2 separate regions of the Homo sapiens genome follow, and region 1 is linked to region 2. Evidence: fine-mapped expression QTL. A gene starts in region 2. The other region holds a variant in brackets. All regions are shown on one strand. Distances are from middle to middle.

Region 1 (4,387 bases), 30 kb after region 2:
TGGTTATTGTAAATGGTGCTGCAGTGAACATGGTGCAGATCTCTCTTCTGGATACGGATTTCATTTCCTTTAGATATATCCCCAGCAGTGGGGTTGCTATATCGTTTGGGAATTCTATTTTGAATTTAATAATGTTTTCCATAATAACTGTACTATCACGGTGATTTTGAAGATCAATATATCTCCACAGGGTAGACAGCTACACCATCATTAAAAAAAGAGAACAGTGGCCGGGCGTGGTGGCTCATGCCTGTAATCCCAGCACTTTGGGAGGCCAAGGCGGGCAGATCACAAGGTCAGGGATTCGAGACCAGCCCGGCCAACATGGTGAAACCCCATCTCTACTAAAGATACAAAAAATTAGCCAGGCATGGTGACGCAGCGCCTGTACTCCCAGCTACTTGGGAGGCTGAGGCAGGAGAATCGCTTGAACCCAGGAGGCAGAGGTTGCAGTGAGCCGAGATCGCACCATTGCACTCCAGCCTGGGGGACAGGGTGAGACTCCATCTAAAAAAAAAAGAGAACAGTGAAAATGAGAGACAAAAGTAGCTGATTCCCAGCTTCAATTTTGTCTATAATACTAATTTTCATGAAGAGCAACATAAACTCCTTGGAGTGCAGTTAAGTCCATATCTGGAGTCAAAAAAACAAAAATTCAAAACAAAACAAAACACCCATGATAGGTCTGAAATAACTTTTTGCTGTCAGAAAGCAAAGATGAGCCGGGTGCCAGTGGCTCACACCTGTAATCCCAGCACTTTGGGAGGCCGAGGTTAGAGTTCAAGGCCATCCTGGGCAATATAGGGAGAACCTGCCTACAAAACAAAACAAAACAAAAACAAAAACAAACAAACAAAAAAAACCAAAAACACGCACACACACACAAAACAAAAAACCAATTAGGCGCTGTGGTACTCACCTGTAGTACCAGCTACTTGGGAGGCTGAGGCGGGAGGATTGCTTGAGCCAGGAGTTTTGAAGCCACAGTGAGCCTGATTAGGCGGCAGAGCTAGACCCCGTCTCAGCAAAACAAAAACAAAACAAAAACAAAAGCAAAGGTGCTTCCAACAATCAGGGTGATCCTAAAATGACAGAGCAGCGTTTTGAAAATACCTCCCCGGGGCTGCAATGTGACCATTTGAGCACTAAAAACAACCATACAAATGGTTAATTAGAACATGCCCCATTTATAAAAGGAGGAAAGTTAACATACACGTTTCTAATAAGACAACAAAAGGATGGAAATAACATTGTGTTGAATTTTTGTTGATTTTGTTAAAAAGGAGCGCGTTGACACATAGGGGGATTTTGTTTCTTTAAGTTCATGTCTGTTTATATAAAGTTTAGGTCTGGGTGTGTGTGTGTACCTGTGTAAGCAGGAAAGAGTAAACAAAATCGAGAGCCCGGGACAAATGCACTTAAGAAGGGGCGACGGGAGGGCCAGGCTCGCCGGGCTGAGTGCTGAGGAGGGGGCGCGTCCCACCCATGCAAGCCCGGAACAAAGGCGCCTGTCACTCGTCACTCTCCACGCGGGCTGGCTCTGGAAAGCCCAAAGGAAAAAACCCTCACTTTCAGGAAGAATAAGCCTCAGCCCATGTATCTAGGGAACACGTGATGCTGCAAGAAACCAGTGACTTAACGCGTGTAAAAGCAGGAGAGCGTCAGAGGTTCTGACCCCGGGGGAGGAGCAGACCCGCGGCAGCGTGCGGAGACTTAGCGGGCGGAATCTGCCACCAACGCAACCTGGCCCAGAGGTTTTGAACTGACCAACTGGGAGACGTCCCCGAGCTTGAATAAGGGCCTCAAAAGCTTAGCGTTTTATGCAGAGTCGCAACCACCCAGCGCTGGGAACCTGAGCCTGCACAACCCACTAGAAAGCACCCGTGACCGTCCCCTGCGCCCGTTATCCCTGCGCCCCGCACCCCTGTATCCCCGGCTTCTCTGCAGCTGTACACCCTGCACTGCGGCGCCCCCCAGTCCCGCTGTCCGCTCCATCGCGCAGGTCTCCAAAACGAATCCCGGCTTGGAGGGGCTCAGCGGCCCTGGGCCTGTGCGCCGTTGCGGCCGGGAGGGTCATTTTCATGCCTAAGG[ACCCG/A]CCCCTTGCACGCAACCTCGGGTAGCCAGCCGGAAACGGCGTCCCGGGCTCCAAAGGACATCTCTTTTTACATTTCAGCAAAACAGCCGCACACCTTCTCCCCAGATGGCCTCTGTGCAGCCTGAAAATGCCCGCTCCCTCCAAGTCCCTGGGCAATTGCTGGGACGCATCTCAGAGACTGCGCGGGGCGGAGAAGGGGTATGTGTTTGGGCCACTAATTTGATTTTCTTGGAAACTTTCTTCCAGTCCAAACCGGAGTCAGCTCCTCTCACCCTTGTAGAAAAGCATCCCGTGGGGGCGGGGCGGGGTGGGTTGGGGCCCAGCGTTGGGGGGTTGGGGGGGCGGTCAACACACCACCCTCCCGCCCTTTGTTAAGCTATTGAAGTTCAATTTCATTCCTTCTCCGTCTTCCATTGACCAGAGAGGAAAGGAATCCTTTGAATTTTTTTTTTAAGTTCATCAAATATCCATTTAGCATCTACTATGTGCCAGGCATAGCTGTTAGTACTTGGGGTGAACGCATCAGATGAAAACATGCCTCCCTGGAGCTTGCAATTTAGTGGAGGAGGAGGTGAGAGTAAACGTGAGGTGATGGCACGGTGTTGGAGGGGTGTTCACTATAGGCAGAGGGCGCCAGGAGGCCGGTGGTCGCGTAGGACAGGGAAGGCTGCAGTTGGAGAGCAAACCTGGAGGAGCAGCCGCGGTAAGGCCCAGAGTGCGAAGACGCCGCGTCTAAGGGCAGCAGAGGGGACCTGGAACTGGAGGGTTGGAAGAAGGGTGGTCACAGGCAAGCAGAAGGGGGCCTCAGAAAGACTGGACCTTGTTTTGAGTTTTTGGAGGAACCTCCGTCCTATTTTCCGTGATGGCTGCACCAGTTTACATTCCCCTCAACAGCGTGCGAAGGGTCCCTTTTCTCCACATCGTGACCAACACTTGTTGTCTCTTGTCTTTTTGATATTAGCCATTCTAACAGGTGTTCGGAGACATTTCATTCTGATTCTGATTTGCATTTTCCTGAATTTTATTTATTTATTTATTTTTTGCGACAGGGTCTCCCTCTGTGGCCCAGGCTGGAGTGCAGTGGTGCAATCTCGGCTCACTGCAACCTAGACTTCCCGGGCTCGAGGGATACTCCCGCCTCAGCCTCTGGACTAGATGGGACCTCAGGAACGACCACGCCCCGCTGATTTTTAAAAATTTTTTGTACAGACGGAGTCTTCCTATGTTGCCCAGGCTGGTCTCCAAAGCCTGGGCTCTAGCAATCCTCCCACCTTAGGCTCTGGGATTAGAGGCATGAGCCACCCTACCGACCCTCCTAGATTAGTAATGTTGAACACCTATTCATATGCCTGTTGGCCATATGTATGCCTTCTTGGGAGAAATGCCTATTTAGGTCCTTTGTCTATTTTTAAAGTTAGGTTATTTGGTTCTTGTTTTGGTTTTGTTTTTTGCTAATAAGTTGTAGGAGCTCTTATATATTTTGGGTATTAACCCCTTACCAGATGTTTGGTTTGCAAATGTTTTCACCCATCCATAGGTTGCCTTTTAATTTTGTTGATCCAGCCATCTCACTTCTGAGTATGCCCAATGGAAATAAAATCACTGTCATAAAGAGATACTTGCACTCCCATGTTAATTACAGCACTATTCATAATAGCTGAGATACAGAAACAACCTAAATGTCCATCAGTGAATGAATAAAGAAAACGTGGTATAGATATTAGTGTTACATGCTATACTACACTATAATAATGAAAATTATTCAGGTCTAAAAAAGAAGGAAACCATGTCAACAACATGGATGAACCCAGAGGACATTATGCTAAGTGAAATAAGCCAGGCACAGAAAGACAAATAATACTGCATGAGCCAACTTATATATGGAATCTAAAAAAGTCAGGGGCTGGGTGAGGAGGAGTACAAAGCTTCAGCTATAAGATAAGTAGTTCTGGAGACCTGAAGCACAGCATGGAGACTCTGGTTAATAACATATCATGGACATAAAATTTACTGAGTAGATCTTACATGTTGTCACCGCACACACAGACACATGCACACACACACAGGTAACCACATGAGGTGATGTGTGTGTTAATTGATTTGACTGTGGTAATCATTTCACCACGTGACATGTACCAAGACATCATGCTGTGCACCTTGAATATGTACGAGCTTTATTTGTAGATCATACTGTCAGAGGCATTTGAGTTAGAGCAACTCCATCTTGAATAGGGGCTGGGTAAAATAAGGCTGAGACCTGCTGGACTGCATTCCCAGGAGGTTAGGCATTCT
Region 2 (4,387 bases):
CTGTGCAGCCGGTGCTCCCGGGACTCCCTGCACACCACACAGATGGGGCTCTGGTCCTTCTGGCAGAAAAGCTTGAGGGGCTCGTGGTGCTCCTGGCACAGGTCTTGCTTCTGCAGACCAGGATGCTGCTGCGCCATCTCGGCCACCTTGGTCAGCAGCCGGTTGGGCAGCAGGTTCCTCTGCGGGGACATCTCTCTGCACTCGGGGCAGGGGAAGGAGCCCTTCCGCTTCCGCCTCCCCTTCTTGCCCCTCGCCTTTTCCCAGCTCAGCTGGATGCAGGCTCGGCAGAAGTTGTGGCCACAGGTGGTCATCACAGGGTCTGTGAAGTAATCCAGACAGATGGAGCACGTAGCTTCCTCCTGCAGTTTTCTGGCGAGTTCCACAGCCTCCATGGCTCCTGGGAGACACGAGGCAGGTTCCCGCTTGAGGGACTCTGGAGAGAGTTGGAGGGAGCAGCCCGATGATCTGGGCGCCGGCAGTGTGCAACCGTCCTGTACAGCCTCCCTTTACAGAGGAGGGCTAGGACTGCAGTCCAGTTAGAGAGTCCAGAGTCATCATTTTTAGCCTTGTCAACAACAGACACAGATGCCTCCCCAGAAACTACACAGACCCTCCCTGACCAATGCTCTGCAGGCCCCTCCGCCTCTCCTCTCCACTGGGCCTGGACCCTACCCGTCCACTTCCGCCTGCTGCTGGCTACCCCCAGCTCCACATCTCATCAGCTCCTCCTCCCCGACAGACCGTTGCCGGCTAGGCCTTCAACCTGCCTTTCTGGAGAAGCCTGCTAGGTCAGCTTAGGGAGAAGCCCCTACCCTTGGAGCCTTCCCTTAATCACTTTCCATCCACTGACCCCACCCAGATCCCCACTCCAACTCCCCCATACATCCCCAGCTGTCTTTGCTGGCGCAACTCTCCCATTGCAAGTAGCCTGACTAAAGAGCCTTTCAAATGTCAGAATTTTTTCTTTAACAAAACCCCGTACACCAAAGGAAGAAGGGATGGGCTATCAGAGGAAAAAAGCTCTCTTCCATTCGGTAGTGAGGTGGGGTTCAGAAAAAACACGCGTGTGCATGTACGCACAGACGAACACCCATACACATACCCATGTATGTATACAAACGTGCATGTGCACACACGCATACCCACGCATACACACCACACAAATACAAACATGTACGCACAGAAACACTGATCCACAAACACAGCACACACAGGCACAGATGCACATATCGGTAAACATACATGCATGTACACACAGGTACACGCGCGCACACACGCACAGGCACACAAGCATGCACATAGATGCCCCCTGCAATCTCAACACTCGCGACCCCACGCAGTGGAGATCTACAGACTTTCGCCTACGCCACGGGGTTGCTATGGGGACCGAGTTGCAGAAGGAGTTGAAAATCGCGTCTACACTGCAAGCACGATTCTCCCCTTCCGTTCTGCCATCCCCTAAAGCGAGGGCGTCTAGGGGTCTCAGACTTCCCCGGCTCTGTCCCACGTCCAGTTTCTCGGAGCTTTCTGCACGCCAACCACCCGGCGCCAGCCCTCCGACTCCCCCCAAGAGCCCTAACGGAGGCACCCAGCCCACCCTGACCGAAGCCGGGCAGGGACAGCGGCAGCGGGCCTGGGGCTCTGGCTCTGGCTGCCGGGATGGCTGTCCTTCCCGCTCTGGTCCGCTAGGGTCCCGGTAGAGTTACCTTGTTGAAGCGCGCTAGCCCCTCCAGGGACGCGGCGGCCGGCGGAGGCGGGAAGGCCGGGCGTTGGAGGGCGAGGAGGACCGGGTTAGGCTTAGGTCGTGGCCCAGGCGCCACAGGAGGGTAGCCTAGGCGGCGGGGTGGGGGCTACTCACCGCGGGGAAGGGGGGCCCGCACAGCGCCTAGTGCACCTGGCCGAGCGCTCGCTGCCGGGAAAGGCTGGGTCTGCCCCCACGAAGCCCAGGAGGCTGCGGCCCGGCCCGGGGCGTGGGGACCTGGGGTCGGGAGGCCTAGGGACTTTGTGGCGTCAGCGGGGGCTGGGGGGCGGCGGGGGAGGGGAATGCTGGGCGAGGGAGTGTTCGGCGGCCGGGACTGGGGCGGCGCCTCTTAGGAGAGGTTGGGGGTGGCTTGGGGAAGGAAGGCGGCAGGGGGTGGAAGGCTCTGGACGAGCCGGGGACAGGCGCAGCGGGTGCTGACTGGGCGGTGGGGAGGATGTGGTCCACAGCCCAGCGAAGGGAGGAGTCTTGTTGGCCTGGGGTGGGACTTTTAGGGGAGGTTAAGGGAGTGTGGAGGGTGGGGAGTTGGGGGGTTACTTGGGGGTGGGGAGTGGAATGGGGACAGCTGGTGGGGCTAGGGGCGGGCAGGCGAGCGTCAGGGTGGGGGGAGTGGGATTGGAAGAGGCTTCTCAACCTGGGGTTGGGGCTGCGGGAGGGCACGCGAGCCCCAGGCTGGAGGGTTAGGTGAGGGGCTAAGTTGGTCGGGGTAGGGGATGGAGAGGAGTTTGTGTGGGCTGGGGTGGGGGCGAGGCAGCAGGAGCGAGTGCCTGTTGAGAAGCTATGAAGGGGGTCCCCAGGAGCAGCCAGTCAGCCGCCAGGTCTGCCCACATGGTTGGCAGTCAGCATCAGGCTGAGGGTACAGGGAGGGGCGTCCCAATCCTGTGGGCGGACCAGTTTGGAGGGACCACCTGGCAGGTCAGGTCCCCTAGAACCAGGCGGGACGGGGTGGGTCTTGCCGACACCCCAGGTGGTTTTGTTACCAGAAACAGGTCCTGATCCAGACCCCAAGAGAGGGTTTTGGATCTTGGGCAAGAAAGAATTCGGGGCAAATCCATAGAGTAAAGTGAAAGCAAGTTTATTAAGAAAGTAAAGGAATAAAGAGTGGCTACTCCATGGGCAGACCAGCCCCCAGGGCTACAGGTTGCCCATTTTTATGGCTATTTACTGATTATATGCTAAATAAGGGGTGGGGTATTCATGAGTTTCCCAGAAAAGGAAGGGCAATTCCAGAAACTGAGGGCTCCTCCCCTTCTTAGACCATATAGGGTAACTGTGACCTTGTCTTGGCATCTGTAAACTGTTGTGGCACTGGTGAGGGTATCTCATAGCATGCTAACGTATTAAAATTAGCATATAATGAGCAGTCATGATAACCAGAGGTTATTCTGGTCGCCATCTAGGTTTTGGTGGGATTTTGCTGGCCTCTTCACCACATACTGTTTCATCAGCAAGGTCTTTATGACGTGTATCTTGTGCCAACCTCCTATCCCATCCTGTGACTTGGAATGTCTAACCTCTGGGGAATGCAGCCCAGCAGGTCTCAGAATTATTTTACCCAGCCTCTATACAAGATGGAGTTGCTCTGGTTTAAAAGTCTCTTACGGTTTCAGCCAAAATGCCGCCCCCAGCCCTGCCCAGGTCCTGACTGGTGGCCATTTCTCCTGGCCTTGAGTCCCCACGCCTAGTCATCACGCTTCATCCTCCAGTAGAGGGATGCACCTTTCACATGGAGGGTTCATCTCCTGCTTTCAGGAACAGGAGCCAGAGGCCTGCGTGCCCTGAGTCAGAGTCCTGGGATTGGAGAGAGAGGACAGATGAAGAAACTAAGGCTTGGCCCACACAGGGGGTGCAGACAGGCAGGAAAACAGGGCCTTGAAGGCTAAGAGGCACCATTCTGCAATCTCCTGGGTGTGCGGGTGTAGACAGCTGGCCACAGGCATAGATGGCTGGCTTTCCCTGGGCTCACTCGGTAGAGTGTTTCTTCTGTGGTCTCTCATCACTCGCACACACAAAGGGGTCTGTGTGCTGTCAGGTGCGGGCTGGCTGCGCACACTGGCCGATTAAGTGAATTACCCTTGTGAACCCAGAATATCTGAGGCTAGTTTAAGTCAATTAGGAAGTTTATTTTGCCAAAGTTAAGGACACACGCCCATGACACAGCCATGTGCCCAAGGTGGTCCGAGCACAGCTTGGTTTTATACATTTTAGGGAGACATGAGACATCGATCAATATATGTAAGATGAACATTGGTTCCATCCAGAAAGGCGGGACAACTGGAAGTGGGGAGGGGGCTTCCAGGTCATAGGTAGATAAGAGACAAATGTTTGCATTCTTTTGAGTTTCTGATTAGCCTTTCCAAAAGAGGCAATCAGATATACATTTATCTCAGTGAGCAGAGATATGACTTTGAATAGAATGGGACGCAGGTTTGCTCTAAGCAGTTCCCAGCTTGACTTTTCCTTTTAGCTAGTGATTTTGGGGCCCAAGATTTATTTTCCCCAATAAATTGGGGATTGGGCAGACCCAATCCTCTGCCTGTCATTTGCATCAGTGAGGGGATTGTGAGCTGCAGGTTTCCTTCAATTGGGAAAACAGAATCACAGAATTAGAGGGGAAATGGAATATAT

Direction of the effects. Alleles are on the strand shown, and positions count from the first base shown. SD is a standard deviation of normalised expression in the study named.
For the expression in esophagus muscle of the gene that starts at base 2,181 in region 2, allele ACCCG in region 1 goes with a higher level than allele A (small effect, 0.21 SD a copy in GTEx).

Evidence for each region. PIP is the estimated chance that this variant, and not a neighbour inherited with it, causes the effect.
Region 1: its variant is fine-mapped to the expression of TRIM17 in esophagus muscle (GTEx, PIP 0.94).

Annotation. Positions count from the first base shown.
Region 1 is chr1:228,444,286-228,448,672 of GRCh38, forward strand. It overlaps LOC124904538 (a long non-coding RNA gene), which reads right to left and starts at 747. Exons shown (of 2, transcript XR_007066919.1): 1 at 1-747. The variant ACCCG/A (reference allele first, on the strand shown) is at 2,092.
Region 2 is chr1:228,414,681-228,419,067 of GRCh38, forward strand. It overlaps TRIM17 (tripartite motif containing 17), which reads right to left and starts at 2,181. Exons shown (of 7, transcript NM_016102.4): 1 at 1,859-2,181; 2 at 1-433. The coding sequence starts at 392. RefSeq lists a silencer at 1,640-1,749.